4 separate regions of the Homo sapiens genome follow, and regions 1, 2 and 3 are each linked to region 4. Evidence: fine-mapped expression QTL. A gene starts in region 4. Each other region holds a variant in brackets. All regions are shown on one strand. Distances are from middle to middle. Region 1 overlaps FBF1 (Fas binding factor 1). Region 2 holds the start of GALK1 (galactokinase 1). Region 3 overlaps TRIM65 (tripartite motif containing 65). Region 4 holds the start of FBF1 (Fas binding factor 1).

What was found. PIP is the estimated chance that this variant, and not a neighbour inherited with it, causes the effect.
Region 1: its variant is fine-mapped to the expression of FBF1 in whole blood (TOPMed, PIP above 0.99).
Region 2: its variant is fine-mapped to the expression of FBF1 in whole blood (TOPMed, PIP above 0.99). The same link has a PIP of 0.9 or more in blood mononuclear cells.
Region 3: its variant is fine-mapped to the expression of FBF1 in lung (TOPMed, PIP above 0.99).

What each region holds. Positions count from the first base shown.
Region 1 is chr17:75,907,614-75,915,713 of GRCh38, reverse strand. It overlaps FBF1 (Fas binding factor 1), which reads left to right. Exons shown (of 30, transcript NM_001319193.2): 24 at 575-697; 25 at 782-967; 26 at 1,416-1,592; 27 at 1,664-1,801; 28 at 1,895-2,012; 29 at 3,407-3,522; 30 at 4,908-6,140. The coding sequence ends at 4,991. Among named protein-coding and RNA genes, the nearest start is that of MRPL38, 6.8 kb to the right of the region's middle. RefSeq lists an enhancer at 492-786 and a silencer at 4,691-4,851. The variant A/C (reference allele first, on the strand shown) is at 3,871.
Region 2 is chr17:75,761,761-75,769,860 of GRCh38, reverse strand. GALK1 (galactokinase 1) reads left to right here and starts at 4,669. Exons shown (of 8, transcript NM_000154.2): 1 at 4,669-4,889; 2 at 5,775-5,964; 3 at 6,422-6,541; 4 at 6,712-6,847; 5 at 6,976-7,157. The coding sequence starts at 4,725. RefSeq lists silencers at 4,505-4,694, 4,925-5,074 and enhancers at 5,185-5,414, 5,445-5,654. The variant A/G (reference allele first, on the strand shown) is at 3,436.
Region 3 is chr17:75,885,463-75,893,562 of GRCh38, reverse strand. It overlaps TRIM65 (tripartite motif containing 65), which reads left to right. Exons shown (of 6, transcript NM_173547.4): 2 at 713-808; 3 at 1,063-1,296; 4 at 1,378-1,552; 5 at 1,685-1,750; 6 at 2,216-4,600. The coding sequence ends at 2,784. Among named protein-coding and RNA genes, the nearest start is that of TRIM65, 7.4 kb to the left of the region's middle. The variant T/C (reference allele first, on the strand shown) is at 4,793.
Region 4 is chr17:75,936,250-75,944,338 of GRCh38, reverse strand. FBF1 (Fas binding factor 1) reads left to right here and starts at 3,297. Exons shown (of 30, transcript NM_001319193.2): 1 at 3,297-3,491; 2 at 6,107-6,192; 3 at 6,746-6,773. The coding sequence starts at 6,190. It overlaps ACOX1 (acyl-CoA oxidase 1), which reads left to right. Exons shown (of 14, transcript NM_004035.7): 14 at 1-2,832. RefSeq lists an enhancer at 3,079-3,148 and a silencer at 3,259-3,528.

The DNA.
Region 1 (8,100 bases), 29 kb after region 4:
TTAAAGAAGAAAATAAAAATATCCCACTAGTCAGAGATGTCCACTGCTGACCTGATATCTATCCTGTAGCCATGTCAACGTAGATAGAGATGCTTTTATGTTGTGAAGCATTTTGATTCGCCTCTTCATTTGGTAACTGTGTTAAGCATCTGCCTGGGGTCAGGCACAGTGAAGCTCTCGCCTTGTGCTGTGTGTGGCTGGGCCCACAGCACAGCATTAAGCCACCCTGTGCTTAGCCTGCTTGGCTGATGGGTGAGGACAGGCAGAGTGCGTAGCTGGCGATTCAGCGGCAGGGATGTTGCTGCTCTTTGGCCCTCCCAAGCTGCTAGCCTTGGTGCTGTTGGAGACCTGAGGGTTGGGAGGGCACCTGCTGGGTCCTTCTCTTGGGCAGAATCGTGCGGGCTGGGCCCTGGCAGTGCCTCCCAGGCACCCCTCATTTTGTGCCTCTTTGGGAAGGACGTGTCAGTGGCATAGTGTGGGAGACACTGGTGGGTTCATGCAGCTTCTCAGGGAGTGGCCAGGCGTGATCCTCAGGGCGGGAACCACGCTCTCAGTCCTGCCCTGGGCCCTACAGGAACGCTGGCGGGTGACTGCCGAGCAGTCCAAGGCGGAGTCCATGCAGCGCGCCCTAGAGGAGCAAAGGAAGGTCACGGCCCAGCAGATGGCCATGGAAAGGGCGGAGCTGGAACGGGCCAAGGTGAGTCAAGCCACCGCACTCAGCCCCTGCCCCTGCCATTATGCCCAGGGACACTCACCCCGTGCCTTCACCCCCACATCCCAGAGCGCCTTGCTGGAGGAGCAGAAGTCTGTCATGCTCAAGTGCGGGGAGGAGCGGCGGCGCCTGGCTGCCGAGTGGGCGGAGTTCTCCGCGCAGCAAAAGCTGAGTAAGGAGCGGGCCGAGCGCGAGGCCGAGCGGGCATTGCAGGTGGACACCCAGCGGGAGGGCACCCTCATCAGCCTGGCCAAGGTAGGGCCCAGAGCCTCCGGACAGTGGAGGGCCCAGGGTTGCCTGCGCCCCTCCATCTGGACACATCCGCTTCCAGTCTTAGGAAAGGAGAGTGTAGCACTAATGTCACAAGAGCATAGGGATTAAAACAGTAATCGCATCATCATGCTAACATCTTCCTCGTATTGTCCCAGGTGCATTATACACATTTTATTTGATCCTCATGTTCCCATGACTTTGGTCATTTAGAAATGAGGAAACCGAACTTCAGAGTTGAGCCTGCCACAGTCACGTGGCTTGTGAGGGCAGCACTCCGGCTTGGCCCCAGGCTTCTCTGGCTCTCCCTGGAAGCCCCTGGCTCCACCACCTCCTCCCAGGGGCAGGGTGGGCAGAGGGGACCCTAGAGTCCTGCACAGAGTGCAGCGCAATTCCTGGGAGGAGAATGCAGCAGGGCCTCCGCTGTCTCCAGGAGCAGGCTGAGCTGAAGATCAGGGCCAGCGAGCTCCGGGCCGAGGAGAAGCAGCTGGCAGCGGAGAGAGCAGCCCTGGAGCAGGAGCGGCAGGAGCTGCGGCTGGAGAAGGAGAGGATCAACGCCACCGCCCTGCGTGTCAAGCTCCGCGCCGAGGAGGTGGAGAGCATGAGCAAGGTGCTGCTCGGGCACATGGGCGTGGGCGCATCTGAGCCCAGGCAGCCCTGACCCAGGCGGCCTCCCTGCAGGTGGCCTCCGAGAAGTACGAGGAGGGGGAGCGGGCATTGCGCGAGGCCCAGCAGGTGCAGGCAGAGCAGCAGGCCCGGTTGCAGGCGGTGCAGCAACAGCAGGAGCGGCTGCGGAAGCAGGAGCAGCACATGCACCAGGCAAGGCTCCCTGAGTGTATGGCGCCCCTGCCCCCGGCACCCCCAGCCTCCCACCTCACAGCTGAGTCCTTCTTTCTGGGGGAACGGGGACAGGAGCATCTGAGTCTGGCCCAGCAGAGGCTGCAACTGGACCGCGCACGACAGGACCTGCCCTCTAGCCTCGTGGGTCTGTTCCCCAGGGCCCAGGGCCCTGCAGCCTCCAGCCAGAGTGGTGAGTGGCTCCAGAAGGAAGGGCCGGCGGCTCAGGACTGGGCAGGGGCAGTGCTAGGAGTGGGCAGGCCCTCCTCCAGCCGCTCCAGTTAAGGCGGCCAGCTGGGTTTTATAGTCGCCTTATTTCTTTTTTACACAAATAATGTGTGTTAATTTTAGATAAATCAGAAATAGAGGAACACTATTATGAAAAATGTCACCTTTTTGTAACTCTGGACTCAGGAAAAAAAAAGGAAATAAAAAAAGTCATTGTCAGGCTGGGCGTGGTGGCTCACGCCTATAATCTCAGCACTTTCGGCAGCCGAGGCAGGCGGATCATCTGAGGTCAGGAGTTCAAGACCAGCCTGGCCAACATAATGAAACCCCGTCTCTGCTAAAAATACAAAATTAGCCGGGTGTGGTGGCAGGTGCCCGTAATCCCAGCTACTCAGGAGGCTGAGGCAGGAGAGTCACTCGAACCCGAGAAGTGGAGGTTGCAGTAAGCCGAGATTGTGCCACTGCACTCCAGCCTAGGGGACAGAGCAAGACTCCGTTTAAAAAAAAAAAAAAAAAAAAAAAGTCACCCTCAACGCCACTCCTGAGTCTTGAGAGAACCACTTTTCACTTTTAACATTTTGGTGCATAATGTTCCACTCTGGTACTTTTTTTTTCTTTTCTTTTTTGAGATGGAGTTTCACTCTTGTCACCCAGGCTGGAGTGCAGTGGCATGATCTCGGCTTAGTGCAACCTCCACCTCCTGAGTTCACGCGATTCTCTTACCTCAGCCTCCCAAGTAGCTGCGATTACAGGCATGTGCTACCATGCCTGGCTAATTCTGTATTTTTAGCAGAGATAGGGTTTTGCCATGTTGGCCGGGCTGGTCTTGAACTCCTGACCTCAGGTGATCCACCCGCCTTGGCCTCCCAAAGTGCTGGGATTACAGGCATGAGCCAACGCGCCCAGCCTGGTACATGTTTTTAAAAACAAAATTAGGATTGTATGTGTTTTTCAATAACTTTACTTTTTTTACTCAGTAATGTACACGTGGAACAGGTTTTCAGATCAGTCATTAAACATTTAGTCAATTCCCAATCAGCACAGTTTTCCACTGTGAGGCTGCTCTGTGCTGAGTGATTTGTTGTCTTAAAGAGAAAGACTACCCAGTGGACATCTTCCTACATATGTGTTTGTACCTTTGCCTGATTATTTCACTGGAATAAATTCCTATAAATGGTCTTTCCAGGTAGGAGCAGGTATGCATTTGCCAGAGGCTTCTGAGAGTTAGTGCCATTGCACCCTGAGTATATGGCCAGGGTCCACCCACTGGCGGGGGGAGCAGCTCTGCAGGAACAAGCTGTGACCGCCCGGTATTTCCACCAACACTTTGGTCCCTGACTTCCTCCTTGGCCTTTTCAGCCCTCATGCCTCCTGCTCCCACCACCCGTTGGTGCAGCCAGCCGCCAACTGGCCTGGACCCCAGCCCCTTGCACCTCCATGCCAGGCTGGCACTGCTGAGGCACATGGCAGAGCAGGTGAGTCTCTCCTGGCCTTGGGGATCCTTGTGTTCACGAGTCCTTCCAGCTCAGGGCAGAGGCAGGGAGGAGCACATGGTAGCCCTGGGGAGGGGTGACCCCAGCTCCTGGGGAGTAAAACTGCAGTTTGCTTAGTGAGCCAATGCTCAGACTTCCACACTAGGCCAGGTTCTGTGCAAAGCAATTTGCATATGTCATCTCAGTTAAACCTCATGATAACCTATAGCAATAATGATAACAGGCTGGGCACAGTGGCTCACACCTGTAATCCCAACACTTTGGGAGGTTGAAGCAGGAGGATCACTTGAGCCCAGGAGTTTGAGACCAGCCTGGGCAATATGTTGAGAC[A/C]CCGTCTCTACAAAATGAAAAACTAAAAAAAGAGGACCAGGTGCGTGGCTCACACCTGTAATCCCAGCACTTTGGGAGGCTATGGTGGGAGGATTACTTGAGCCCAGGAGTTCGTGGCCAGCTTGGGCAACATAGTGAGACCTCGTCTCCACAAAAAAATAGCTGAGCGTGGTGGCATACACCTGTACTCCCAGCTACTCCGGAGGCTGAGGTAAGAGGATCACTTAAGCCCGGGAGGTCGAGGCTGCAGTGAGCCACAACGGTGCCACTGCACTCCAGGCAACAGAGCGAGACTCTGTCTCAAAAAAATAAATATTAAAAATTTAAAAATTAGCTGGGCATGGTGGGGCATATCTATAGTCCCAGCTACTTGGGAGGCTGAGGTGGGAGGATTGCTTGAGCCCAGCTGGTCGAGGCTACAGGTGTGTTCACACCACTGCACTTCAGCTTGGGTGACAGAGCAAGGCACTTGTCTCAAACTAAACAAAACAAAACTATAATGATAACAGTTGTCATTATGGAGCATTTCCTGTGTGCCAACCTCAATGCCGAAGGCTTTGTTTATATTTTACTTATTTATTTATATTTAGAAATGGGGTCTCACGATGTTGCCTCGGCTGGTCTCAAAGTCCTGGGCTCAAGTGATCCTACCCCCTTGGCCTGCGGATTAGCTAGGATTACAGGCATGAGCCACTGTGCCTGGCCTGCTTTGTGTATTTTTTAAGCTTTTACCCTCACACAGCCCTGCAAGGAAGGGCTACAAGGAATGTTTACAGACAAGGAAACTGAGGCTTAGAGACATGAAGTCATGTGCTCGTAAGTTCCACAGCAAACAAGTAACCTTGCCAGGATTGAGACTGTGGTCTGTCTCACTCCATACCTGGGCTCTTTCATGGCCCCTGCTGACTCCCAGAGCCAGGCAGAGTCAGGGACGATGTGGGGAGGGGCCTCAGTGACGGCTGGCTCAGCTAGCATCCAGGGCTCCACCTCCCTCTCAGCTCAGGGAAGGTGACCGCCCATCCAAACCTGCCTTGCAGGACCGTGACTTCTTGGAGAATGAACAGTTCTTCCTGGAGACCCTGAAGAAAGGGTCCTACAATTTGACATCTCATTCAGCCTGAGTGGGACCCCAGCCGATTCCCCAACAGAGGGTTCGGACCCCAGAACTGTCCTGTTCCTCCGGCTGCCTCCATGGAGGCAGTGCCTGGGGAGGATTCTGAGATGCTTGAGGCCTGATGACAGCTCTTCCGTGGACAGGGTGCAAGTGCATCCTTTCCAAATGTGCCAGCCCGGGGCAGCCCCTGCCTCTGGGGCTCTGTGGTGTAGGCTATCTTACCATGGCTTTGGCTGCCCTGCCCCAAAGCCATTGGCTTGGATCTGAGGGTCTGAGTTGGCAGCAAGGACCCCCAGCTCTCACTGGGCTCTGTGGGCTCCCCCTGGGCTCTGTGGGCTCCCCCTGCTCCACAGGTAGACTGTTGTGGGCTCTTTTTGCCTGGGCCTCTTCTGAGGCAGGAGCTTTCTTGAGGGATGCCACAAACAGCCTTCCCTACTCCCTGCCAGAGCAGTTCCCTCCCTGATGAGCTGGAGAAGGGCCCTCTGGCCTCCTGACAGTACAGGGAGGGCACCAGCTAGATCCTCCCTTGTGGTGTGAGATGTTCCTGGAACTCAGCCAGGCCCTCCTCCTCCTGGGCTTGCCCAGAGCCCCCACCCTATTCCCAGCATTGCCCGAAGGACCAACCAGTTTGGGTGAACAGTGGCCTCCTCAGCTTCCTCCCCATCTGGGTGCCCCACCGGCGGCGGAGGGAGCTGTGGCGATGGTGGGGTGTGGGGAGGGACGAGGAGGGAAGCCTCTGTGCTGCTCACCTGCCCAAAGCCCAGCTCAGCGGGTACGCAGTGGAGGCGACAAGGAACCAATCACAACTACAGAGGTTTCTCTGATCCTCCTCCACTCCCGCTGCTTCAACTTGACTAAGCTTAAAAAAACTGCTTTTGCCATGGCTCATCGGAGTTTATACTTATTTCTTAGAAAATGTTTCCTGTTATTTGCTGGACAAGTCCCAAAGAACAGGCAGATGTTCTTATTAAAAGATCAGCCTATAAGATTGGTCAGGACCAGGCGCCTCTGGCCACGTGCCTCTCCCCTCCAGCACCTGCGGTCTGCGGTGGCACCTGGCAGCTGGACCACAGCCAGGAGAAGGGTACTATTAGCCCTGCTTCAAACATGCAGAAACTGAGGCCCGGGGAGATTAAATAACCTGCCTGAAATGACAGTGAGTAGCTGCGCCTGGATTTGAGTTCTGCTCTGGCCAATCCCCAAGCTCCACGCTGTCAGCCACCCCGCTCTCCTACCTCCCAGAGGAGCAGGCTACACTCCTGGTAGGTGCTGGTGTGGGAGGAAGATCTTTTCAGGCGCTTCTGGGGCTGGTACCAACACTGAGGAGGGAAGTATCACATGCCCCATTGGAAGCCTTGGTTAAGTCTCAAATTTGATTCTCCACAAAAGAGACTCAACCAGTCCTGAGGCAGACCTGTGCAAAGAGCTGGGGGGGTCTAAGGATGGGCACGTCGGCCCAGGGGCAGCTGGTATCTAGGCAGCCACCTGCAGGACCTGCAGGTGATCAAGCACATACATCGGGGAGGGCGGTGCTGGGAGACCCACAGGGGGAGAGCATGGCCTTCAAGACAGAGTAGGGAGAAGAGGTTAGAATGAGAGGGCTTTGCATATCTTGTTAAAGACGTGCAACTTTTCAGGGCAAATTTGTCTGAGGGCAAATTTTCAGGTCTTCACTAGAAGATTTTAAACAAGGTTGAACCATATTTGTATTTTAGAAAACCCATTGGCCAGGCACGGTGGTTCACGCCTGTAGTCCTAACACTTTGGGAGGCCAAGGTGGGTGGATCACTTGAAATCAGGAGTTCAAAACCAGCCTGGCCAACATGGTGAAACTCTGTTTCTACTAAAAATACAAAAAAACTAGCTGGGCATGGTGGTGTGTGCCTGTAATCCCAGCTACTTAGGAGGCTGAGGCAGGAGGATCGCTTGAACCCGGGAGGCACAGGTTGCAGAGAGCCGAGATTGCACCACTGCACTCCAGCCTAGGCGAGAGAGCAAGACTCCGTCTCAAAAAAAAAACAACAACAAAAGAAAACCCATTGTGTCTGCAGGGTGGGGACCGGACCAGAGGGGGCAAGAGTGGGACAGAGGATGTGTGGGAAGGCAGCTGGCAATGGTGCAGGGGAGGGACTGTGGGCAAGACTACCGGGCATGGCAGGGAGGGCCCACAGAAAAGTGGCCCTCGGGCCTAGTGCCAGTCATGGAGGATCAGAAAGGAAGACGTGTTGAGGACGCCCAGGTTCCTGGCTTGGGTGACTGGGTGGTGTCACAGATGAGTATACAGTGCCGGGGGGACAGCCAAGCAGAGACATTCCACAGGCACTCAGTTATAATGGCACTTTACTCAGTGTAAGCACTCAGCATTCCTGTCACCGCCATGAGGGTGTGGCAGGCATCCTAATTATCCCCTTCAGCCTTCTCCCAGGCCACAGACACTGGAGAGGGCTGAGTACAGAAATGAGTGTTGTGTAGCTGCAGCTCTTTTTTTCCTTCAAAATTGTAAACAAGATCATAACCCAAGTGCTTCATTCAGTTCCTTTTAGAGAGAGAAATATTGCGGCCGGGCGCGGTGGCTCACGTCTGTAATCCCAGCATTTTGGCAGGCCAAGGTGGGTGGATTACCTGAGGTCAGGAGTTCGAGACCAGCCTGACCAACGTGGTGAAACCCCGTCTCTACTGAAAATACAAAAATTAGCCGGGCGTGGTGGCGTGTGGCCTGTAGTCCCAGCTACTTGGGAGGCTGAGGCAGGAGAATCGCTTGAACCCAGGAGGGAGAGGTTGCAGTGAGCCGAGATTGTGTCACTGCCCTTCAGCCTGGGTGACAGAGTGAGATTTTGTCTAAAAAAAAAAAAAAAGAAAAAAAAGAAAAAGAAATATTGGTGGAATGTAATGGGTAAAACATACTGGTGCAGGTGCCGGGCGCAGTGGCTCACGCCTGTAATCCCAGCACTTTGGGAGGCCGAGGCGGGCGGATCACGAGGTCAGGAGATCGAGACCATCCTGGCTAACACGGTGAAACCCCGTCTCTACTAAAAATACAAAAAATTAGCCGGGCGTGGTGGCGGGCGCCTGTAGTCCCAGCTACTTGGGAGGCTGAGGCAGGAAAATGGCATGAA
Region 2 (8,100 bases), 170 kb after region 4:
AGAGTACCATAATGCCTGTTGAATTAATGGACAACTGATAAGAATAGCAAACATTTATTCTGTGCGTACCAAGTGCCAGCTGCTGGGCTGGGCACTTTATGAAGATGATCTCATTCAGTTCCTTTTACAACAGCATGTCTGGGAGCAATCTCTAGCCCCATTTTACACATAAGAAACTGAGGCCCAGAAAGGTCACTTCATTTACCTGAGATCATATAATAGGAAGAGTGGAGATGAGGGCTCAGCACTGTTGGGTGTCAGAGGTGAGGTGAGTAAAAGGCATGCAGAGAAGGGGCTGCTTCGCTCACCTCTGCCCTGATAGAATGGGCCCTTGTAGGGAGGTATGGTTTGTGAGTTTCATTCCATTTCAACCAGCCCAAGGGCCACTCATGGTATGATTTGTTTGGTGTTGGCTGTGCCAAAAAATGCTTTACTGAAGTGTGCTCAAAAGGAGCAGGTCATCCGATGACATCTGGAATTGCTTGGGCTGGAGTGCAGTGGCGTGATCTCGGCTCACTGCACCTTCAACCTCTGGGCTCAGGTGATCCTCCTGCCTCAGCCTCCCAAGTAGTCGGGACCACAGGCACACACCACCAAGCCTGACTAATTTTTGATTTTTTTTTTTTTTTTGAGACGGAGTCTCAGTCTGTTGTCCAGGCTGGAATGCAGTGGTGTGATCTCGGCTCACCGCAACCTCCGCCCCCTGGGTTCAAGCGATTCTCCTGCCTCAGTCTCCTGAGTAGCTGGGATTACAGGCTTGTACCACCACACCGGGCTAATTTTTCTATTTTTTAGTAAAGATGGGGTTTCACTATGTTGGCCGGGCTGGTCTTGAACTCCTGACCTCAAGTGATCCACCCGCCTCGGCCTCCCAAAGTGCTGGGATTACATGCATGAGCCACCGTGCCCGGCTAATTTTTGATTTTTTTGGAGAGATGAGGTCTCCCTTTGTTGCCCAGGCTGGTCTTGAACTCCTGGTCTCAAGCGATTTGCCCACCTCAGCCTCCCAGTGTTGGGATTACAGGCGTGAGCCACCACACCTGGGCCCCATTCTTTTCTTAACAGCTTTATTGAGATATAATACATACCATATAATTCACCCATTTAAAACATAAAATTCAACAGTTTAGGATATTCACAGGCATGTGCAACCATCACCACAGTCCATTTTAGAACATTTTCCTTACCACAGAGAAACCTGCCATCCTTTGGCTCTGACCCTGCTATTCCCTCAGGCCTAAGCAACCGCTAATTAACTTTCCATCTGTAGAGATTTGCCGATTCTGGATATACAACAGGTGGTCTTGTGTGACTGGCTTCCTTCACTCACCATAATATTTTCAAAGTTCATTCTTTTTTTTTTTTTTTTGAGACGGAGTTTTGCGCTGTCACCTGGGCTGGAGTGCAGTGGCACGATCTCTGCTCACTGCAAGCTCCGCCTCCCAGGTTCACGCCATTCTCCTGCCTCAGCCTCCCGAGTAGCTGGGACTACAGGTGCCCGCCACCACGCCCAGCTAATTTTTTTCTTGAAGGCTCCATCCATGTTGTTACACGTATCAGTACTTCATTTCTTTTTATGGATTAATATTTCTATTGTATAGATACATCACTTGTTTTTTTTTCCCGAGACCAAGTCTCACTATGTCACCTAGGCTGGAGTGCAGTGACGAGATCTCGGTTCACTGCAAACTCCACCCCCCGGGTTCAAGTGATTCTTGTGTCTCAGCCTCCCGAGTAAGCTGGCATTACACATGTGCGCCACCATGCCTGGCTAATTTTTGTGTTTTCAGTAGAGATGGGGTTTCACCATGTTGGCCAGGCTGGTCTGGTCTTGAACTCCTGCTCTCAAGTGATCCGCCTACCTCGGTCTCCCAAAGTCTGGGATCACAGGCATGAACCACCACATCTGACATTTGAGCATCTTTTCATGTGCTTATTGGCCATTTGTATTTATATTATTTGGAAAAATGTCTCTTGAAATCTTTTGCTTTTTTTTTTTCTTCTTTGACACAGGGTCTCTCACCTTCTGAGTAGCTGGGACCACAGGTGTGTGCCACCCAACCTGGCTAATTTTTTTTTTTTTTTTTGTAGCAGTGAGGTCTTCCCACGTTGCCCAAGTTGGTCTCAAACTCCAAGCCCCTGAGATATACATGATTTGCAAGTACTTTCTTCCATTCTGTGAGTTGTCTTTTCACTTTCTTGACAATGTTCTTGTCAGGCCTCTGAGCCCAAGCTAAGCCATCATAGCCCCCGTGACCTGCACGTATACATCCAGATGGCCTGAAGCAACTGAATATCCACAAAAGAAGTGAAAATAGCCTTAACTGATGACATTCCACCACTGTGATTTGTTCCTGCCCCAACCTAACTGATCAATGTACTTTGTAATCTCCCCCACCCTTAAGAAGGTTCTTTGTAATTCTCCCCACCCTTGAGAATGTACTTTGTGAGATCCATCCCTGCCCGCAAAACATTGCTCCTAACTCCACCACCTATCCCAAAACCTATAAGAACTAATGATAATCCCACCACCCTTTGCTTACTCTTTTCAGACTCAGCCCGCCTGCACCCAGGTGAAATAAACAGCCTTGTTGCTCACACAAAGCCTGTTTGGTGGTCTGTTCACACGGACACGCGTGACAGTTCTTTGTTGCAGAAAAATATTTCACTTTGATGAAGTACAGTTTATTTTTCTGTTGTCACTTGTGCTTTTGATGTCATATCTAAAAAACCATTGCCTGGCCGCATTGGCTCACACCTGTATCCCAGCACTTTGGGAGGCTGAGGCAGGCAAATCACTTGAGGTCAGGAGTTCAAGAGCAGCCTGGCCAACATGGTGAAACCCTGCTTTTACAAAAATTATCCAGGCATGGTGGAGGGTGCCTGTAATCCCAGTTACTGGGGAGGCTGAGGCAGGAGAATCGCTTGAACCTGGGAGGCGGAGGTTGCAGTGAGCCAAGATCGCGCCACTGCACTCCAGCCTGGGTAACAGAGCAAGATCTGTCTAAAATAAATAAATACGTAAATAAATAAAAATAAAAAAACATGACTAGGTGTGGTGGCTAACGCCTGTAATCCCAGCACTTTGGGAGGCCAAGGTGGGTGGATCACCTGAGGTCAGGAGTTTGAGACCAGCCTGGCTAACCTGGTGAAACCCCAGTCTCCACTAAAAATACAAAAAATTAGCCGGGCATGGTGGCACGTGCCTGTAATCCCAGCTACTCCGGAGGCTGAGGCAGGAGAATCGCTTGAACCCGGGAGGCAGAGGTTGCAGTAAGCTGAGATCACGCCATTGCACTCCAGCTTGGACAACGAGAGCGAAACTCCGTCTCAAAAACAGAAACCAAATAAACATTTCCTAACCAATGTCACAAAACTGTACCCCTATGTTTTCTTCTAAGAGTTTTCAGAATTGCCCTTGGAATGCAGTTCCCC[A/G]CTCTTTGGGCACACCCCTGAGCAGGCCCCAAGCTAAATCCCTGGCCATAACTCCCCACACTACTCCCACCCTAACCCCAAGCAAGCTGCTTACATTTCAGTCTTTCAGTTTCAAGGTTCCATGTAGGGTGGGCAGCTGTGGACAGGTATCAAGGCAGCAGTTGGGGCCGGCCAGCAGGTTTAGGATGCAGGATAGCAAGAGAAGAGTGCCTGACTGGGAACAAGGCCACGCCTCTGAGACAAGGGCTTCTGGGCTGAAGTAGTGCCTGCTGGGGCCAACAGCACAACCTACCTGGACAGCTGTGGCAGGTCCTTAAGGGAGGGGCTGGGCCCACTGCTGGCCACCGCCACCCTAGTCCAATTCTCCATTGCTAGGAGCTGTTGCGTATTACCTAGAAAAGGAGCTTGTAAAATTGACTCTCTGGTCACCACCAAACTTGTCTTTTTTTTTTTTGAGACAGAGTTTTGCTCTTGTTGCCCAGGCTGGAGTGCAATGGTGTGATCTCAGCTCACCGAAACCTCCGCCTCCCAGGTTCAAGTGATTCTCCTGCCTCAGCCTCCCGAGTAGCTGGGATTACAGGCATGAGCCACCATGCCCAGCTAATTTTGTATTTTTTAGTAGAGATGGGGTTTCTCCATGTTGGTCAGGCTGGTCTCCAACTCCCGACCTCAGGTGATCTGCACACCTCGGCCTCCCAAAGTGCTGGGATTACAGGCGTGAGCCACTGCGCCCGGCCCAAACTTGTCTGTCTTTATCTCTACTTACAGTGAGTGTCAGGTCACCCTCTTGGAGACCGGTGATCAGAGGCTGATGACCTCTCACAGCTGCTGGCCCTGGGGACCTAGGGGATCCCTTTGGGAATCCCAGGTCAACCGGGTGCCAGCTCCATTGCTCTGGCTGTGTGGGTGGTGGTGGGTGGTGAGGCACATAGAAAGTCACCAGCGCCAGGGAAGGGCAGCTCAGAAATCCTGGTCATGCCAAGTGCCACTCAGGGCTATTCTCACTCTAGTGAGTGCTCATTGGTTCTTCCCGAAGTCCAGAGGGAAGGACACCATCGGGGGCGCTGTATCCCACCCGGCACCATTAGCCCCTGCCACCCACCACCCAGCAGCTGGATTCCCACGGGAGTTGCGGGTGGGGGCGGAACCGGCTGAGGTCTGGGGGCGGGGCGTCCGGGCGCGGGGCGGGGCTGGCGGGAATGTGCGCACCCCCGCGCGGGGCCCCGCCCGAGCATCCCGCGCCGACGGGGCTGTGCCGGAGCAGCTGTGCAGAGCTGCAGGCGCGCGTCATGGCTGCTTTGAGACAGCCCCAGGTCGCGGAGCTGCTGGCCGAGGCCCGGCGAGCCTTCCGGGAGGAGTTCGGGGCCGAGCCCGAGCTGGCCGTGTCAGCGCCGGGCCGCGTCAACCTCATCGGGGAACACACGGACTACAACCAGGGCCTGGTGCTGCCTATGGTGAGGGGCTGCACGGGGAGCCCCTAGCCCGCCGCCGCCTGTCCCGGCCGCCGAGGAGGGCGGGCCTCGGGGACGCTGGGGGCGAGTTCTTCCCGCGGGAGATGTGGGGCGGGCAGCTGCGCCTGGAGCACCGGTGCACGGAAGAGTCCCCGGGACAGGCTGTTCCCCACGTTGGAAGGGAGGAAGCGAGGAAGTGGCCGGGAGAGGGTGCGCGGCCGCCTCTTGGCTCAAGCCCGCCCTCTGGGGGCTGGGGCTCCTCGCCTTCAACCTGGGAGCATGTTCCCCTTAAACTGTGAGGCCCTGTGTGCCACGCAGAAGGGGACACTCCGCGCCTCCGGCCACCGTGGGGCCCCAACCGCAGACCTGGGCGAACGTAGCCTTCTGGCCCAGCCCGTTCAATTTACAGAGGAGGAAACTGAGGCCTAGAGAGGCCCAGTGAACTGCTGGAGGTCACACAGCAGGTTCTTGGCGGGGCTGCGACTTGGGAGTGAGGACTCCCAGCTTTCAGCGGGGGGCGCTTTCCGCCCCATCTGCAGCTTGGGGAGTGCACAGGTACAGGATGTCCAGAGCCACCCCAAAATGTAAAGGCTTTGGAGCTCCAGTGATCTGTTTTCCCTTTGGGCTAGCTCTCCCCCTTGCCCCACAGCTCAGGGCAGAGTCCAGGTCTGTGCTCCAGCTGCAGCCGCCCCGCCCCTGAAGACCTAAGGGGGCAGGGCTCAAGCCCCCAAGGTCAGCTGGCCCTCAGGATCTTCCCTGCGACGCTGAACCTGGAGGTTCAGAACCTGATGACTGTGGAGGCATCAGAACCTCGGCTGGAGGCAGTGTCATTGGAGAGGCTTACTCCAGCTGGCGGAAGCCTCACGTACTGCTTGTCTCTCCTGCCAGGCTCTGGAGCTCATGACGGTGCTGGTGGGCAGCCCCCGCAAGGATGGGCTGGTGTCTCTCCTCACCACCTCTGAGGGTGCCGATGAGCCCCAGCGGCTGCAGTTTCCACTGCCCACAGCCCAGCGCTCGCTGGAGCCTGGGACTCCTCGGTGGGCCAACTATGTCAAGGGAGTGATTCAGTACTACCCAGGTATGGGGCCCAGGCCTGAGCCAAGTCCTCACTGATACTAGGAGTGCCACCTCACAGCCACAGAGCCCATTCATTTGTCTGATACACTGTGGGGAAGGCTTGTAGAGTGGAGCATCCCATTGTACAGATGAGGAAACTGATGCCCCCAGAAGGTCGGGAACTTGCCCTGGGTTTCCCGTGACCTGATTGGAGGAGCCAGGATTTGAACCCCAGCCTTTTTTCCCTCCAGAGCCCTAAACCAGGAGGACAATTAGAAGTGTCCCAGCAACCTCAGAGGGTGGGAAAATGGAGGGCAGTGGGTCCCTTGGCCCAGCAGGTTGGTGGCTTCTGACAATTGAGACACACACCCTAGAAACAGCTGCTAGGCCGTTGCTGCCCTTCCCGCCAGGACACCTGCCCTTCCTGTGCCATCCTCCCAGGCAGCCCCTCTTACCATCACCTGTTCTTTCCCCTGCAGCTGCCCCCCTCCCTGGCTTCAGTGCAGTGGTGGTCAGCTCAGTGCCCCTGGGGGGTGGCCTGTCCAGCTCAGCATCCTTGGAAGTGGCCACGTACACCTTCCTCCAGCAGCTCTGTCCAGGTACCAGCTAGGCCCCAGCCCTGACCCAGCCCTCCTTCCCTGAGGTCTCCAGGTGGTCCCAGCTTCTACTATGCCTTATGGAGGGGGTGGCAGGGACTCTCCCTGGAGTGTCATTGAAGCCACTGCTGCTTCCACCAGCCCTAGCCTCCCCACCTCACCCTGTACTGCAGACTCGGGCACAATAGCTGCCCGCGCCCAGGTGTGTCAGCAGGCCGAGCACAGCTTCGCAGGGATGCCCTGTGGCATCATGGACCAGTTCATCTCACTTATGGGACAGAAAGGCCACGCGCTGCTCATTGACTGCAGGTTGGGCTCGCTCCCCTCGTCCCCTCCCGCCCTGCACTCAGCAGCTCCTGGGTGGGAGTGTGCCCACTGCCTGGCGCAGCAAGCACACGCTTGGCCTCGTCATCTCCCCCATTGTAACTCCACCCCAGGTCCTTGGAGACCAGCCTGGTGCCACTCTCGGACCCCAAGCTGGCCGTGCTCATCACCAACTCTAATGTCCGCCACTCCCTGGCCTCCAGCGAGTACCCTGTGCGGCGGCGCCAATGTGAAGAAGTGGCCCGGGCGCTGGGCAAGGAAAGCCTCCGGGAGGTACAACTGGAAGAGCTAGAGGGTGAGAACTGCCAGGGTGCTCTATCCTGGAGGCGGCTGTGCTCCCTGCTGGCGCCTCAGTGTGGCCTTGACCCTGCCTGGGACCCCGATCTCCAGGGCCTTCTGCCATGCTCTCCCCAGTCCCTTCAAACACTGCGCACCCAGGGTTCCAATCTCAGCAGGGCTGCTTGAAATCCTAAAATGGTCTTATCTAATCAGAAAAATCATGTTTCCATTGTGGAAAATGTAGAAAAGTACAAAGTAGAAAATAATAAGCTATAAGGCCACTACCCAGAGATAGCCACTGCTGACATTTTCACGTTTCCTTTCAGTATTTTTCCACATCTGTCTTCAAAGCTGAGTATATGTAATATATCATCACTTTCCCCCCCCACCCCCTTTTTTTTAAGAGGCAGGGTCTCATTCTGTTGCCCAAGCTGGAGTGTAGTGGTGTGATCATAGCTTACTGCAAACTTGAACTCTTGAGCTCAAGGGATCCTCCCAGCTCAGCCTTCCAAGTAGCTGAGATTACAGGTGTGCCACCATGCCCGGCTAATTTTTATCTTTGTAAAGACGGTCTTGCAGTGTTGCCCAGGCTGATCCTGAACTCTGGCCTCAAGTGGTCCTCCTGCCTTGGCCTCCCAAAGTGTTGGGATTATAGGCATGAGCCACTGCGCCCAGCCCATTTGCCGTGTTTTTTTTTTGGACACAGAGTTTCGGTCTTGTCACCCATGCTGGAGTGCAATGGTGCGATCTCAGCTCACTGTAACCTCTGCCTCCCGGGTTCAAGTGATTCTCCTGCCTCAGCCTCCCGAGTAGCTGGGACTACAGGCGCCCGCCACTACGCCTGGCACATTTTTTATAGTTCTAGTAGAGACTGGGGTTTCACCATGTTGGCCAGGCTGGTCTCAAACGCCTGACCTCAGGTGATCCTCCCGCCTCAGCCTTCCAAAGTGCTGGGATTA
Region 3 (8,100 bases), 51 kb after region 4:
GCTTTTGACCAGGTGCTGGGAATGGAGCCCCTGGGACCTGCGTGGTTTGTCCTGCTCTCATGAGAGCACGGTGTTTTGATTCCCAAGGGACTCAGGGAGCGCAACCGAATAGGGGTCCCTTCCTCCCCTCTCAGTCTCAAAACTAGGGCCAGGGACTGGCCGGATCCCCAGAAGAATCTAGTTTATCCAGCAAGTAACTGCCCACTTGTCAGACAGCTTTGGTGCTTTGGGAGGTCCCTGCAGTCAGCTTCTCAAGCCCCAGGGCCTCCTGGGCCACTGACCCCTCTGCAGTGAGACAGGGACCAACGGCTTTAGTGTTTGGGGTCCTCCCTGCGAGGCCTCCTGAGCCAGCATTATCGCTTTCCTGTATTGATGGGTGGGGGGTTAGGCCCAGAGAGGACAGGTGCTTGGCCTCAGCTTGCTCAGCATGCAAGAGGTAGAAATGGGAATGGAAGTTGGGTCCTGAGCCCAAGGCTTCCGCTCTGCTCAGGCACCACCCTGCTGCAGATTAGGAAGGACTTTGTCTGGACCCCCCCGGGGCACGGCCCCAACTCTCCCTGGGTTAGACCGAGGCCGGTGCTCTGGAGGCTGGCCTGGGGTGGCGTGGGGAGGGGCTGCCTGGTGTCTGCAGGCATGGTTGGTTGTCTGAGAAAGGACATCACAGCCAATCCTGGCCTTCTCTTGTTGCTTGTCCCGTGGGCCCGCACCACAGGCCCAGCTGAGAGCCAGCCTGGAGGTTACCCAGCAGCAGGCCACCCAGGCCGAAGGCCAGCTACTAGAGCTGCGCAAGCAAAGCAGCCAGATCCAGGTACGAGGCCTGTGCCTGCCCGCCCACCATGGCCTCACACTGCATCCTGGGGCGGCCACCAGCTGGTCCCTGGAACACCAGGCAGCAGGGAGCGGGGCTGAGCAGGGAGCTGGGCACAGGGGTCCTGGGGAGGTTCCCGGGACCCTGCCTCCCCACATCCCTGACCCTCAGCCCAGCAGGCAGCCCTGGCCCTAGCCTCCCTTGGTATGGCACAGGGCCCTGGCCACCCTGAAGCCCCTCCTGTTCCCGCCCAGAACTCGGCCTGCATCTTGGCCTCCTGGGTCTCCGGCAAGTTCAGCAGCCTGCTACAGGCCCTGGAAATACAGCACACGACAGCACTGAGGAGCATCGAGGTGGCCAAGACGCAGGCGCTGGCACAGGCTCGAGACGAGGAGCAGCGGCTGCGGGTCCATTTGGAGGCTGTGGCTCGCCATGGCTGCAGGATCCGGGAGCTCCTGGAGCAGGTGGATGAGCAGACCTTCCTGCAGGTGCGAGGGCTCAGGGCATAGGTGGCGGACTTGCTTCCCTGCCCCTCAGGCCCAGGCTTACTTGTTCTCCCTGGGGCTCAGGAATCGCAGCTCCTCCAGCCCCCAGGGCCTCTTGGGCCACTGACCCCTCTGCAGTGGGATGAAGACCAACAGCTGGGTGACCTGAAGCAGTTGCTAAGCCGGCTGTGTGGCCTCCTCTTGGAAGAGGGGAGCCACCCTGGGGCACCAGCCAAGCCTGTGGACTTAGCCCCCGTGGGTAAGACTGACCCCAGGCCTCCCCCTGCTGTCCTGGGTCCAGCTGCCCCTCCCGCTGGGGGGGTGGAGGCGGGTCAGGGCCCACACATCGTGACCTCTCCAACCATTCCCTTAACACTGCTTTGCCCCCTAGAGGCCCCAGGTCCCCTGGCACCGGTCCCAAGCACAGTTTGTCCACTGAGGAGGAAACTCTGGCAGAGTAAGGAGGCCGTTCGTGTATGTGTGCCCCTGTGTGTGCGTGTGCAAGGAAGTGCCTGTGTGTGCTGTGAGCACGTGTGTGTGTGCATGTTCGTATGCACGTGTGAGTGAGGGGGGCACTTGTTTTGACTGTCCTGCCGGGACATCTGAGCCTGGTCCCACCCGCTGCACACCTCGTGCACATCCACCCTGAAGCAGACGCAGCCAGTGTGCGTTGAAGGACAGAGTCTGGGGCACAGACCCGTAATTCTTCCACTTAACACTGAGTTAATGGCTCTCAGAGCCCCAGTTTTCTCAGCTGTGAACGGGGCTGATAGAGGATTCCGCCTGCGAGGTCGTGGCGAGGATTAAGTGCTATGGTGACGGCCGGTGCTCAGCGTGCCTGGCGGAGGTTTAGCAGCGGATAAATGGAGATCTGGTTGTGCTGTCTTCCCCCAGCCCACTGCTGTCCTCCTTTCCCCAACAGATTATCGCAATCTGACCTTTGATCCAGTCAGCGCCAACCGTCACTTCTATCTGTCGCGCCAGGACCAGCAGGTGAAGCACTGTCGTCAGTCCCGGGGCCCAGGCGGGCCCGGCAGCTTTGAGCTCTGGCAGGTGCAATGTGCCCAGAGCTTCCAGGCCGGGCACCACTACTGGGAGGTGCGCGCGTCAGACCACTCGGTGACACTGGGCGTCTCCTACCCGCAACTGCCACGGTGCAGGCTGGGGCCCCACACAGACAACATTGGCCGGGGACCCTGCTCCTGGGGGCTCTGCGTCCAGGAGGACAGCCTCCAGGCCTGGCACAACGGGGAAGCCCAGCGCCTCCCAGGGGTGTCAGGGCGGCTCCTGGGCATGGATTTGGACCTGGCCTCAGGCTGCCTCACCTTCTACAGCCTGGAGCCCCAGACCCAGCCCCTGTACACCTTCCATGCCCTCTTCAACCAGCCCCTCACCCCCGTCTTCTGGCTCCTCGAGGGTAGGACCCTGACCCTGTGCCATCAGCCAGGGGCTGTGTTCCCTCTGGGGCCCCAGGAAGAGGTGCTCAGCTGAAGAAGGCATGGGATGGAGCCCTGGCATAGCTGCCACCATGCCTATGTGCCCAAGAGCTGCCCAGCTTCAGCTTGGGGACTGGAGGACCAGCTGTTGGCCTCTCTGTTAACTCAGAAAGAGATGGGAGGTTGGGGGAGGTGAGCATAAACGCAGAGTTCACTGTTGCAGCCTTTTTGAAGGGGACACAGTCTAGGAGGGGGATAAATGGGATGCCCTTGCCCCAGAGAGAACCCAGTTCTAGGTACTGTCTGGGCCTGGGAGGCGAGAGCAGTGCCCAGGGGACTTCTGGGCTTACAGGACAGCGTGTGTGACAAAATTCAGATCTACCTGAACTTGCCTCTGGAGATGATAAGGGCCAAAGGAGCAGTCAGGGAGGGGCGGTGAGCCAGAGTAGTCCCAGGGGGAGACAGATTCCTCCCTCCTCCCCGCCTGCAGCTCTCTTTAATTTTTTGTAACATTTGGAGAGACGTCCGTCCTGTCTTGTAGTCTTTTTATTTTGTGCATCCTTATAATTGTATTCTACAAACAATTTTGTTTTCTGCATTTAAACATTTTTGTGTTTTTAGGAGATGGTCTTGCTCTGTCACTCAGGCTGGAGTACAGTGGCACAATCATGGCTCACTGCAGCCTCGAGCTCCTGAGCTCAAAGGATCCTCCCACCTCAGCCTCCAGAGTAGCTCAGATTACAGTGTTTTCTGAAGTTTCCTGACTTAACATAAGCATTTTTCACATGATTGAAAATTTTCACTGATTGCTGTAGTCATTCTAATGACTATCAAGTTTATTTATCCATTATTGGACATTTAAATTTCTTTCTTTTTAGCTATACAAACATTGATGTGTTTTTTTTGAGACAGGATCTCCATCTGTCACCCAGGCTGGTGTGCAGGGGTGCGGTCATGGGCTCATGGGATTCTCCTACCTCAGCCTCCTGAGTAGCTGGGATTACAGGTGTATGCCACCACGCCTGGCTTATGATGAATATTTCTGAGTGGGATGTTTGGCCACATTTATGGTCATGTATGTAGGCTGTTACCTCAAGTGAGTCACTCAGGGAACAATGAGCACTTGAAGATTTTTTTATACAAAAGGCCACAGTGAGGCCACCTTGAGTCAAGCCGACTAAGGCCCCTCAACCCTGTCACTAAGCAGCACGTGACACTGGCAGGACCTTCATCTCCAGCATCCCACCCCTGGGTGTGGGACTTTGGGGCAGCCGTGTGTGCAGGTGTCGGCACAGGCTAGCTCCTCCTGGTTTGGTGTGGTGTTTGCCATTGCAGAGCAAGCTGCCACGAAGACCCCTGGGCATGATTTTGCTTGTATTTCCGGAAGTGGGGTTGCTGGGTCATAGGGCAGGTGTAATTTTTTTTACTTGAAATGTTCCACTTCTTGTTCTGGGAGGTGGTTCCAAGGGTGTCTGCTTTTGGCCAGGCGCAGTGGCTCACGCTTGTAATCCCAGCACTTTGGGAGGCCGAGGCAGGCGGATCACAAGGTCAGGAGTTCGAGACCAGCCTGGCCAACAAGGCAAAACCCCGTCTCTACTAAAAATACAAAAATTAGCCGGGCATGGTGGTGTGCGCCTGTAATCCCAGCTACTGGGGAGGCTGAGGCAGAAGAATCGCTTGAACCCAGGAGGTGAGGTTGCAGTGAGCTGAGATTGCACCACTGGACTACAGCCTGGGTGACAGAGCGAGACTCTGTCTCAAAAAAAAAAAAAAAAAGGGAGGGCTGTCTGCTTTTTGTAACTTGAAAAACTGGACATCTATGTTATATGTACTCATGGATAAATATTTCACAATAAAACTTTTTAAAAGGATAATACGTGTAATATACATACCCCCAATATATATAATGTTTTTATATTTGTAAAAAAAAAAAACCTCCCACGACGACCCCACCCCGATCACTGCCGTCATTGCAGCCTCCATCTTGTGGCCCTGCTCCTAGCCTGTGGCTGTTTGTTCAAGAGCAGGGCAGGGCCTTGGATTGGCACAGCCCAGGCAAGGAC[T/C]TTCCAGCAAGATCCTCAGGTGGGAGCTCCCCAGACATGGGAAGGGAATCTGACATGTGCAGCCCCACAGCCAGGAGGCGGGCAGGACCTTGCTGACCAGCTAGGGGCAATGGTGGGAGCTGAAAGCCCAGCCAGGCAGGATGTATTGGCCTGGCCAGATGGCTGTCATTGCTGTCCCCACCTCATAGTCCCTCCTAATCCAAGGCTGCAGCAGAAGCACCCAACGGGCTGAGCCGCGCTCTGAAAGGGGCAGAGAGAGGAAGAGTTGGCCCCTTTCTGCTTCTGAGGTGGGAGGTGTTTGGGGTCATTTATTATGTGAAATTCATCTTCCTATTGGGTGGTGGTTCTTTCTATATTCTGCGAGCGTGTTCTATATTATTAATAATAACCCCTTTTTCTTTCTTTCTTTTTTTTTTTTGAGACAGAGTCTTGCTCTGTCGCCCAGGCTGGAGTACAATAGCGTGATCTCAGCTCACTGCAAGCTCCGCCTCCCGGGTTCAAGCGATCTTCCTGCCTCAGCCTCCCGAGTAGCTGGGATTATAAGCGCACACCACCACACCCGACTAATATTTATTTATTTATTTATTTATTTATTTATTTATTTATATATTTTTTGAGACAGAGTCTCACTCTGTTGCCCAGGCTGGAGTGCAGTGGCTCAATCTCGGCTCACTGCAAGCTCTGCCTCCTGGGTTCACACCATTCTCCTGCCTCAGCCTCCCAAGTAGCTGGGACTACAGGCACCTGCCACCACGCCCAGCTAACTTTTTGTATTTTTTAGTAGAGACAGGGTTTCACCGTGTTAGCCAGGATGATCTCGATCTCCTGACCTTGTGATCCACCCACCTTGGCCTCTCAAAGTGCTGGGATTACAGGCGTGAGCCACCACGCCCGGCGTAATTTTTGTATTTTTAGTAGAGATGGGGTTTCACCATGTTGGTCAGATTGGTCTCAAACTCTTGACCTCGTGATCCACCCGCCTGGGCCTCCCAAAGTGCTGGGATTACAGGCGTGAGTCGCCATGTCCGGCCCCCCTCTTTTCTTCCTAATGGACAGCCTCCCAAGTCAACATAGGCTCAGAGACTCCCACCCTTTATCTTTTTTTCTTTTTTTTTTTTTTTTTTGAGACGGAGTCTCACTCTGTCACCCAGGCTAGAGTGCGGTGGTACAGTCTTGGCTCACTGCAACCTCTGCCTCCTGGGTTCATGCCATTCTCCTGTCTCAGCCCCCAGAGTAGCTAGGACTACAGGCACCCGCCACCATGCCCAGCTAATTTGTTTTGTTTTTGAGACAGGGTTGCACTCTGTTGCCCAGGCTGGAGTGCAGTGGAGCAATCTCAGCTCAGTGCAACCCCTGCCTTCCACATTCAAGTGATTCTCCTGCCTCAGCCTCCCGAGTAGCTTGGATTATAGGCGCCCACCACCACACCCAGCTAATTTTTGTATTTTTAGTAGAGTCATGGTTTCACCAGTTTGGCCAGGCTGGTCTCAAACTCCTGACCCATGTCATCTGCCTGCCTCAGCCTCCCAAAGGGATCCACACCTGGGATTGCAGGTGTGAGCCATTGCTTTTTTTTTCTTTTTGCTTTTTCTCTTCTTTTTTTTTTTTTTTTTTTTAAGAGATGGGGCCTCACTCTGTCACCCTGGCTGGAGTGCAAGGGCAGGATGCAACCTCTGCCTCCCGGGCTCAAGTGATCCTTCCTCCTCCTGCCTCAGCCTCCTGAGTAGCTGGAACTACAGTCGCATACCACCTCGCCCAGCTAATTTTTAAATTTCTTGTCAAGAATGGGGTTCTCACTGTGTTGCCCAGGCTGGTCCTGAACTCCTAGCTTCAAGTGATCCATGCCCAGCCAGCCGAACTGATTCTGATAGAACTCTCCACCGTCTCTCCAGGAAAACGCACGCTGGTATCGAGGGAAAAGGCAGCACAGAGTTGGGATGTGACATTTGGAAAGGGGACGTGTTTGATTAGCTTGTGGGTGTTTCCAGCATGTCTGGCCTACCCACCAGACCCCCTTACAGATTCTGGGCTTCAGTTGTGCACAATCAGGTGGATGGTCACCCAGAGACAGAACAAGGGCAGGAGAGGTTGTGAAAGACAGGGACCTCACAGGCCAGCTGGATTGGAGGGAGTTGGATTGGAGGCCAGAGAGGTGTATTAGTCTGTTTTTGTGCGCTAATAAAGACATACCTGAGACTGGGCAATTTATAAAGGAAAGACGTTTTTGGTTTTTTTTTTTTTTTTTTTTTGAAACGGAGTCTCGCTCTGTCACCCAGGCTAGAGTTCAGTGGCACAATCTCGGCTCACTGCAAGCTCCACCTCCTGGGTTCACGCCATTCTCCTGCCTCAGCCTCCTGAGTAGCTGGGACTACAGGTGCCCGCCACCACGCCCGGCTAGTTTTTTGTATTTTTAGTAGAGACGGGGTTTCACCACGTTAGCCAGGATGGTCTCGATCTCCTGACCTCGTGATCCGCCCGCCTCGGCCTCCCAAAGTGCTGGGATTACAGGTGTGAGCCACCGCGCCTAGCCAGGAAAGAGGTTTAATGGACTCACAGTTTCACATGCCTGGGGAGGCCTCACAATCATGGTAGAAAGCGAAGGAGGAGCAAAGGCATGTCTCATATGGTGGCAGGCAGGCAAGGAAAGCGTGTGCAGGCGAACTGCCCTTTATGAAACCATCAGATCTCGTGAGACTTATTCATTACCATGAGAACAGCATGGGAAAAACCAGCCCCCATGATTCAATTACCTCCCACCAAGTCCCTCCCACGACACGTGGGGATCATGGGAGCTGGGATTCAAGATAAGATTTGGGTGGGGACACAGCCAAACCATATCAGAGGTGAAGGGTAAAGAGAACAAGGGGATGTGCCTTTCCAGGCAGGATAGGAGCAGGACGCTGCCTGGAACTGAGGCTTTGAGTAGCATCAAGCTGGAAGGTAGAAGACAATGGAGCCAGCCCTTGAGATCCTGGGGGACTGGATTTCCATCCTAGGATTCCATGCCCAGCCAAACTGTCAGTCAGGGATGAAGCCCGAACAGAGACACTTGCAGACACGTCAGCCTCCATCCTCAGGAAGCACCCAGAGGGCAGACTTTTCAAAAATGAAGAAGTAAATCAGTGAAGGGAAAAGGGAGGTCTGGGATCCAGGAAACGGGGAATTCAACACAAAGGAGAAGTAATCAAGCATCTGCAGTCTCCAGAAACATGAGCACAAACAAGCTGGCTGGGCGCGGTGGCTCCCGCCTGCAATCGCAGCACTTCGGGAGGCTGCAAACCTCCCTAGGAAATGTGGTAACACACCTC
Region 4 (8,089 bases):
GGTCTGTTGGATTCAAAATTTTGTAAGCCATTTTCACAAGTACAAAGATACATTTTAACCTTGTCTTCTCCAAAATTACTGAGTAGGAATTTTATTTTTATCTTTTTGAGACAGGGTATCACTGTCACCCAGACTGGAGTGCAGTGGTGGGATCTTGGCTTACTGTGACCTCTGCCTCCCGGGTTCAAATGGTCCTCCCTCCTCAGTCTCCTGAGTAGCTGGGACGACAGGCACGTGCCACCATGCCCAGCTAATTTGTTCTATTTTTTCTGTAGAGACGGGGTTTTGCCATGTTGCCCAGGCTGGTCTCAGACTCCTGGGCTCAAGCGATCATTTCGCCTCAGCCTCCCAAAGTGCTGAGATTATAGGTGTGAGCCACAGCATCTGGCCCAGAGTGAGGAGAATTAATGAGATTTTTTGTGTGTGTTAGATAATATTGATTTAAGCCTTTTTTTAAAAAGTACTCTCAACCAAATACAAAATTGAAAATGTGAGGTTTAATAGAAATGTGTTGGCTATTTGCAATGGATTTTCTTCTTGCCCAAGTGTTTGGAGTTCTACTTTATGCTCTGTATTTAAAAATTAGTGACCTCAAAGCAGAGTTGATGACACAGGCTTTGGGGCCCTCATGTTCTTGTCTTTAGAACATATCACTACTAAGTATCAGCTTATCTTCAGAACATTACAACATTCACCGTGTTCATATGCTTTCTGAGAAGTCACCACTTGTAATTTCAGATCACATACACCTGAAGGCATTTTATAGTTCCTAAAGTTAACATGTTAGATCTTTTTTTTCCACCCCATGAGGGTCTCACTCTCACCCAGGCTGGAATGCAGTGGTGTGATTGTAGCACACTTTGGCCACCAACTCCTGGGCTCAAGTGATCCTCCTGCTTTGGCCTCCTCTGAGAAGCTGGGATTACTGGTGCACACCACCACACCTGGCTAATTTTTTATTTTTTTTTATTTTTGGAAATAGGGTATGGCTATGTTGCCTTGGGCCCGTCATGAACTCCTAGCCTCAGGTGACCCTCCCACCTCAGGCCTCCCAAAGGGTTGGGATTACAGGAGTGAGCTACTGCACTGGGCCAACATGTTAATTTTTTTTTTTTTTTTTTTGAGATGGAGTCTCCCAGGCGGGAATGCAATGGTGCGATCTCGACTTCACTGCAATCTTCACCTCCCGGGTTCGAGCGATTCTCCCACCTCAGCCTCCTGAGTAGCTGGGATTACAGGCACCTGCCATCACGCTCGGCTAATTTTTGTATTTTGAGCAGAGATGGAGTTTCACCATGTTGGCCAGGTGATCTGCACTCCCACTCCCCCCACACTTCCCAAAGTGCTGGGATTACAGGCATAAGCCACAAGCCACCTCACCCAGCCAACATGTTACATCTTAATTCTTGGATTTTCTTCACTGCAGGGCTTTGGGTGGAGAAATAAAACTCTTCAAATGCATGATCTTGGAGATCCCTGTGAATCAATAATTCTTTAGACAACTGCGGCTCAAAATCCCTCCTTTCCCTTTTCCGAGTTATTCCATCCATCTTATTAGAAAGGAAGTGAATTAGGTGTAGGTGGTCTGTAACACCTGCACATCTTTTTATACGTGTAGAGGGTATGCCTGGGATATATAGGTTGTCTTCAAGCAGTAGCTGCTACTACAGCTAGAGAGAGGAGGAGTGCCAGGAAACTGATGACCTGAGACCAAGAGTCTTGTTGATGTTCTGACTTAGATAAAGGTTTTGATCATTTTCATGAAATAATGCAGGGAAGTCATTTCTGCTGTTTCTTTACTACTCCATTCTTGGAGGATTAGAACAAGTCACACTGTAATTGACTAAAACGACTTTTTATTTTAAAATATTGATGGTGGGGTTTTGCTTTTTTTTTTTTTTTTTTTTTTGAGACGTTGTCTTGCTCTTTCACCCAGGGTAGAGTGCAGTGGCGAAATCTTGGCTCACTGCAACCTCTGCCTCCCGGGTTCAAGCAATTCTCTGCCTCAGCCTCCTGAGAAGCTGGGATTACAGCGCCTGCCACCATGCCTGTCTAGTTTTTTTGTATTTTTAGTAGAGACAGGGGTTTCACCAAGTTGGCCAGGCTGGTCTTGAACTCCTGACCTCGTGATCCACCCACCTCGGCCTCCCAAAGTGCTGGGATTACAGGCGTGAGCCACCGTGCCGGGCCAGTGTTTTTAACTGTCCACACTTACTAAATTTTCCAGTACTTCTTCCTATGGTTCATGATAGTAAACACAGAAACATATAAGGAACATTATTAGAGTTACCAGATGTTAGCTGTTGCATATGTGCACATTCCTAGATTCAAGGGTGTTTTTGCCTTAAATTTAAGTGGGTCATTGGTTGTCTTGGGAAGATCATGGAAAATTCGGGATTTTTTAGAATTCTGAACCAAAATATGTTTTGAGTGTTTCTTAGTAAATGTGTGATCTTCCACCTTCCACATTCAGACTGCGGACTACACTTCATAAATGCCTTTTTATTTCCAGTTATGGATTCAACTAAATGACTGCCTTGGGAGCACATAATTACTTTGCTACCTTTTTCCCCCTTTGCTGTTGTGGCTCGAGTTTGGTTCTCACCTGAGAAGATGCATTGAGCATATGTTGTTACCCAGCCCTGGCTTAATGGTGTCCTGTGGGGTAGGGGTGGGAGGACGAGGGGCACGGGGCCAGAGCATGTGAATGGATCATGGTTGGACAGCTGTGACCTGCCAGCACTGCGGGTAAGCAAAACTACAAACCGTTCTTTCCTCTGTGACATTGAATAAACCTTAATAAAATTCATAATTAGCACATACTAGAAAAAATGTGACTTAATCTTTTTGTGGGGCGACAGTATTGGGTTTCATTCTGGCTATACAGCTTTGATTGGATCATTAAACAGGTCAGTCACTTCCCTCAAGCTTTGGGGTGTGGAATAAACACCGGTGAATTTGTGGATTCACCCGTCAACCTCCCAATATCAACACATTTCTCACGCCTCCGCGTCGGCCACGTGTCAGCCCTCAGAAGTGGGCAGGAGGAACTTTTAAGCTTCCCGGCAGTTCCCAAGAGGGCCTTTGAGCCTGGCGCCCTCTTCCCGGAGAGGCGTTGGGGCAGCTCCTAGCAACGTGCCCGCCGCCGGCAGAAGCCCGGCCCCGCCAACTGCCGCGCGCGGCTCCCTGGGAGCTGTAGTTCTTCATGGCGTCCCCACCTCCTCTGTGAGGGCGGGTGAGTCGACCGCCGACTGCGACTCCCAGGATGCCTCGCGCCCGCCTTTCCGCGGGAGGCCAGACGGCTGAGGGTGCCGGCAGCGGCTGGAAGCGGGAGGCCAGTCCTGGCCGGGCTGGGCGACCCGAATGGAGCCAGGGCCGGCGCTGGTCCCAGCGGCCGCACCTCCGGGGGCACGGCGCGTAACAGGAGGCTTCCGGGGCTGAGAGCGTTACAGGCTGCGCTCCGGGGCCAGATAGGCCGGGCGCTCAGAAGGGTGACGCATTGAGGGGCGCGGAGTCTCGGGACGGAGGGGCGACTCCGGCTAGGGGTCTTGCTTAGGGGTGGTCTCGGGATCTGTAAAACGCCTGGCATGGAGTCGGCTGAATACATGTGGGGACGGGGTTACTCTGTAGCCCTTTGGCCTTGGCAAACCAAGCCTAGAAAATCCCCATAGTCTGAGAAGCCCGTACAGGATCGATAGGAGATGCCAGAAGTTCCTTGATGTGTTATGGGACACATTTGGACTTGTAGGTCGTGAAGTCGCCATTGCAGAGAAAAAGAAACAAGGCCGGGCACGGTGGCTCACGCCTGTAATCCCGACACTTTGGGAGGCCAAGGCGGGAGGATCACTTGAGGCCAGGCGTCTGGGACGACCCTGGGCAACATAGGGAGACCCCCGTCTCTACAAAAAAAATTTTAAAATTTGCCGCACATGGTGGCGTGTGCCTGTGGTCCCAGCTGCTAGGGAGGCTGACATTGGAGGATCGCCTGAGCCCAAGGAGGTCGAGGCTGCAGTAAGCTATGAGAGCTGTGATCGTGCCACTGCACTCCAGCCTGGGCAACAGAGCGAGACCCTGTCTGGAAAAAAAAAAAAGAAAGAAGGCCAGGCGTGGTGGCTCACACCTGTAATCCTAGCACTTTGGGAGGCCGAGACGGGCAGATCACGAGGTCAGGAGTTCGAGACCTCCTGGCCAACAGTGAAACCCCGTCTCTACTAAAAATACAAAAATTAACCGGGCATGGTGGCATGTGCCTGTATTCCCAGCTACTCGGGAGGCTGAGGCAGGAGATTCGCTTGAACCCGGGAGGCTGAGGTTGTGGTGAGCCAAGATCGCACCACTGCACTCCATCCTGGGCAACAGAGCAAGACTCCGTCTAAAAAAAGAAAAAAAAGAAAACACATGTATTCAGGGTGGGCTCTGTAGGTAAGCCCAGATAACCCTTGCATTCCAATAACAGGACAGGCCAATACTTGGGACATAAAGAGGACCCCTCTGACTCCTTTCTTCCAGGACATCCTGTAGGTGGGTTTTGGTAAAGTGGAGGAGGGGGAGGGAGACAGCTAATTCCGAGGAAAATGTTCTCAATGGGTCAGATTTACTGCCTATGTAAAGGGAAATATTTCCACTGTCAGTGAAAATCGTGTTGCTGGACGTGGTGGCTCACACCTGTAATCCCAGCACTTTGGAAGACCAACGCAGGAGGATTGCTTGAGCCCCAGAGTTCAATACCAACCTGAGTAACACAGTGAGACCCCGTCTCGAAAAAAAAAATTTTAAAAAGAAAAAGAATATCAAAGAGTAACCAGAGTTCATACCTGCTTTTGTGCTAAATGCTGCCTAGAAAGTAGTCATGGGTGTTGCCTGGGAAAGGGTTTCAGCCTTGGTGCCAGGCACCCACCTCCTTTCTGAAATGAGTACTTGCCACTTGCTGCATCGGCTTTCAGGGTAAGGGATGATGGCCACTGCCCTTTTTTCAAGTAATCTCAAAGCCTCAGAAAGCCCATTAAGTTATCCAGAGCACGTTTTTTTTTTTTTTTTTTTTTTGGAGACAGAGTCTCGCATGTTGCCCAGGCTGGAGTGCAGTGGGGCGATCTCGGCTCACTGCAACCTTCTCCTCCTAGGTTCAACCTAGTCTCCTGCCTCAGCCTCCTGAGTAGCTGAGATTACAGGCATATGCCACCATGCCCAGCTAATTTTTGTATTTTTAGTAGAAATGGGGTTTCACCATGTTGGTCAGGCTGGTCTTGAACTCCTGACCTCAAATGATCTGCCCACCTCAGCCTCCCAAAGTGCTGGGATAACAGGTGTGAGCCACCGCGCCCAGCCTGAGAGTACTTTGCTCCTCTTCTGAAGTGCATCCCCTATAAGGAATTTTTAATTTATGGAAATGGGCTTTACCTCTTGAATGGGCAAAGTGAGAGAACTTTGATAACCCTTGGATTCATGCTGTTAAACCTACATCTTTTTTTTTTTTTGAGATGGAGTCTTGCTCTGTTGCCCAGGCTAGAATGCATAGCATGATCTCAGCTCACTGCAACCTCCGTCTAGCGGGTTCAAGCGATTCTCCTGCCTCAGCCTGCCAAGTAGCTGGGATTACAGGTGCCTGCCACCACACCCAGCTAATTTTTTGTATTTTTTAGTAGAGGTGGGGTTTTACCATGTTGGCCAAGCTGGTCACGAACCCCTGACCTCAGGTAGTCCACCTGCCTCGGCCTCCCAAAGAGTTTTGGGATTACAGGCATGAGCCATCGCGCCCGGTCTCTTTTTTTTTTTTTTTTTTTTTTGAGATGGAGTCTCACTCTGTTGCCTAGGTTGGAGTGCAGTGGCGCGGTCTTGGCTCACTGCAGCTTCCACCTCCCCGGTTCAAACGAGTCTCTTGCCTCAGCCTCCTGCTGCGGGATTACAGATGTACACCACCACACCCAGCTAATTTTTGTTTTTAGTAGAGACAGGGTTTCACCATGTTGGCCAGGCTGGTCTTGAATTCCTGACCTCAGGTGATCCCCCCGCCTTGGCCTCTGAAAGTGCTGGGATTAACAGGCGTGAGCCATGGCGCCCAGCCAAAGCTACATCATTTTTAAGCAACCACTTTAATTTTCTTCATTAGGGAGTATGAGCCTGATGTGGGCAGAATCCAGATGAGCTGGCCAGTGCTGTGAAGGAGCTGAGAGCACCCCCGAGAGCCGTGAGATGGTAGGCAGAGTTCAGAGTAAGATGCATGGAAAGCGAACATGCCTCCCATCCTGCATCCCCAAAGATCTTGACTGCATGCAACACTCTGGGGGCTGGGCGGCAAGGACCAGGATGGAGACCCTGGAGAAGAGTGACAGGAGGTGGCATTGATACCAAACTTTCGACGACCAAGGTTTCTTCTGAGACTCTGAGTGTCCAGCTGGAAGCGTTTTTAAGTGTCTGTCACTGGTATTGAGGAGTCAGGGGCACGGAATAGAAGACATTTCCGGTCACATGACATCTCGGCTGGGAGGGTTTGCATGTCGTGTCTGGGAAAGGAGTGACCTGCCCGCCCATTGGCACCCATCGCTGGTTAGCAGGGCTGTTTCCACGCTCTGAATGAGTCCGTTCTCAGAAACTATAGGAACACATAAAGGACTTACATCTCTAAATGCCATTGGTGCTCTTGCCTCTGGTTACTTGGCAAAAGGCAACGCAATTCATTCTGCATTGCCAATTTCCACCTGTGTTCACTGTTTGGTTTTCTTGATGTGATTTGTTTTTCCCATTTTAGGCACCAAAAACCAAGAAAGGATGTAAAGGTGAGTGGAGAGATGGAACATTACTCTTAAGCCAAATATATATCTTTTTCCCCTTTGGTCCTGGAACAATGAGATGTGTTTATTTAAATGTTTTTGGGCCGGGCACGGTGGCTCACACCTGTAATCCCAGCGCTTTGGGAGGCCGAGGTGGGTGGATCATGAGGTCAGGAGATCGAGACCATCCTGGCTAACACGATGAAACCCCGTCTCTGCTAAAAATACAAAAAATTAGCCGGGCGTGGTGGCGGGTGCCTGTAGTCCCAGCTACTCGGGAGGCTGAGGCAGGAGAATGGTGTGAACACAGGAGGCGGAGCTTGCAGTGAGCCGAGATCTCACCACTGCACTCCAGCCTGGGCAACAGAGTGAGACTCCGTCTCAAAAAAAAAAAAAATGTTTTTGATCAGTCTTGCTGTTCTTCCCATTATTCCGTAGGCAGCCTTGGTCTTCCTTATGTTGCCTCACTGGTCCTCAGAGAAGTTCAGACGTAAATAAGATATGAGGTTTTGGAAAAAATCCTCCTCCTTGGGCTCTGTATCCAGAAATATGTGGTTGGGATTCAGGGTGGGAAAGCTGGTGTGGGGAAACGAATTCGATATTCATACTTAGGTTCCCCCACATGCCTCCATCAGAAAGTGGCCATTGATGAGGACATCCAGACCAGTTCTGGGGGGTCTTAGATGGAAGGGTACAAGGAGCCTACTTGTCTGAAAGTAGCCTCCATGTGCCTAGAAATCTTGGGCACTCTTCCCAGCGAGCTGCACTGGGCTGTGTTCAGGGTCTGGAAGACTGATCTTTGGCCAGTGTGTCATGGTAGGCAGGTAGAATATAGGTTCTGCTGAAAATCTGCACCATCATCCTTTCAGATAGTTGTGTTTTTTTGTTTTTTTTTTTAAGACGGAGTCTTGCTCTGTTGCCCGGGGTAGAGTGCAATGGCGTGATCTCAGGTCACTGCAACCTCTGCCTCCCAGTTTCAAGCAATTCTTCTGCCTCAGCCTCCCCAGTAATTGGGATTACAGGCATGTGTCACCATGCCCGGCTAATTTTTGTTTTGGTTTTGTTTGTTTGTTTGTTTTTGAGACGGCGTCTTGCTCTGTCACCCAGGCTGGAATGCAGTGGCGCGATCTCGGCTCACTGCAACCTCTGCCTCCCAGGTTCAAGCAATTCTCCTGCCTCATCCTCTCCAGTAGCTGGGATTACAAGCATGCGCCACCAGGCCCAGCTAATTTTGGGGGGGGTCTTTTTGTTGTTTTTTGAGACGGCGTATCGCTCTGTCGCCCAGGCTGGAGTGCAGTGGTGCGATCTCGGCTCACTACAAA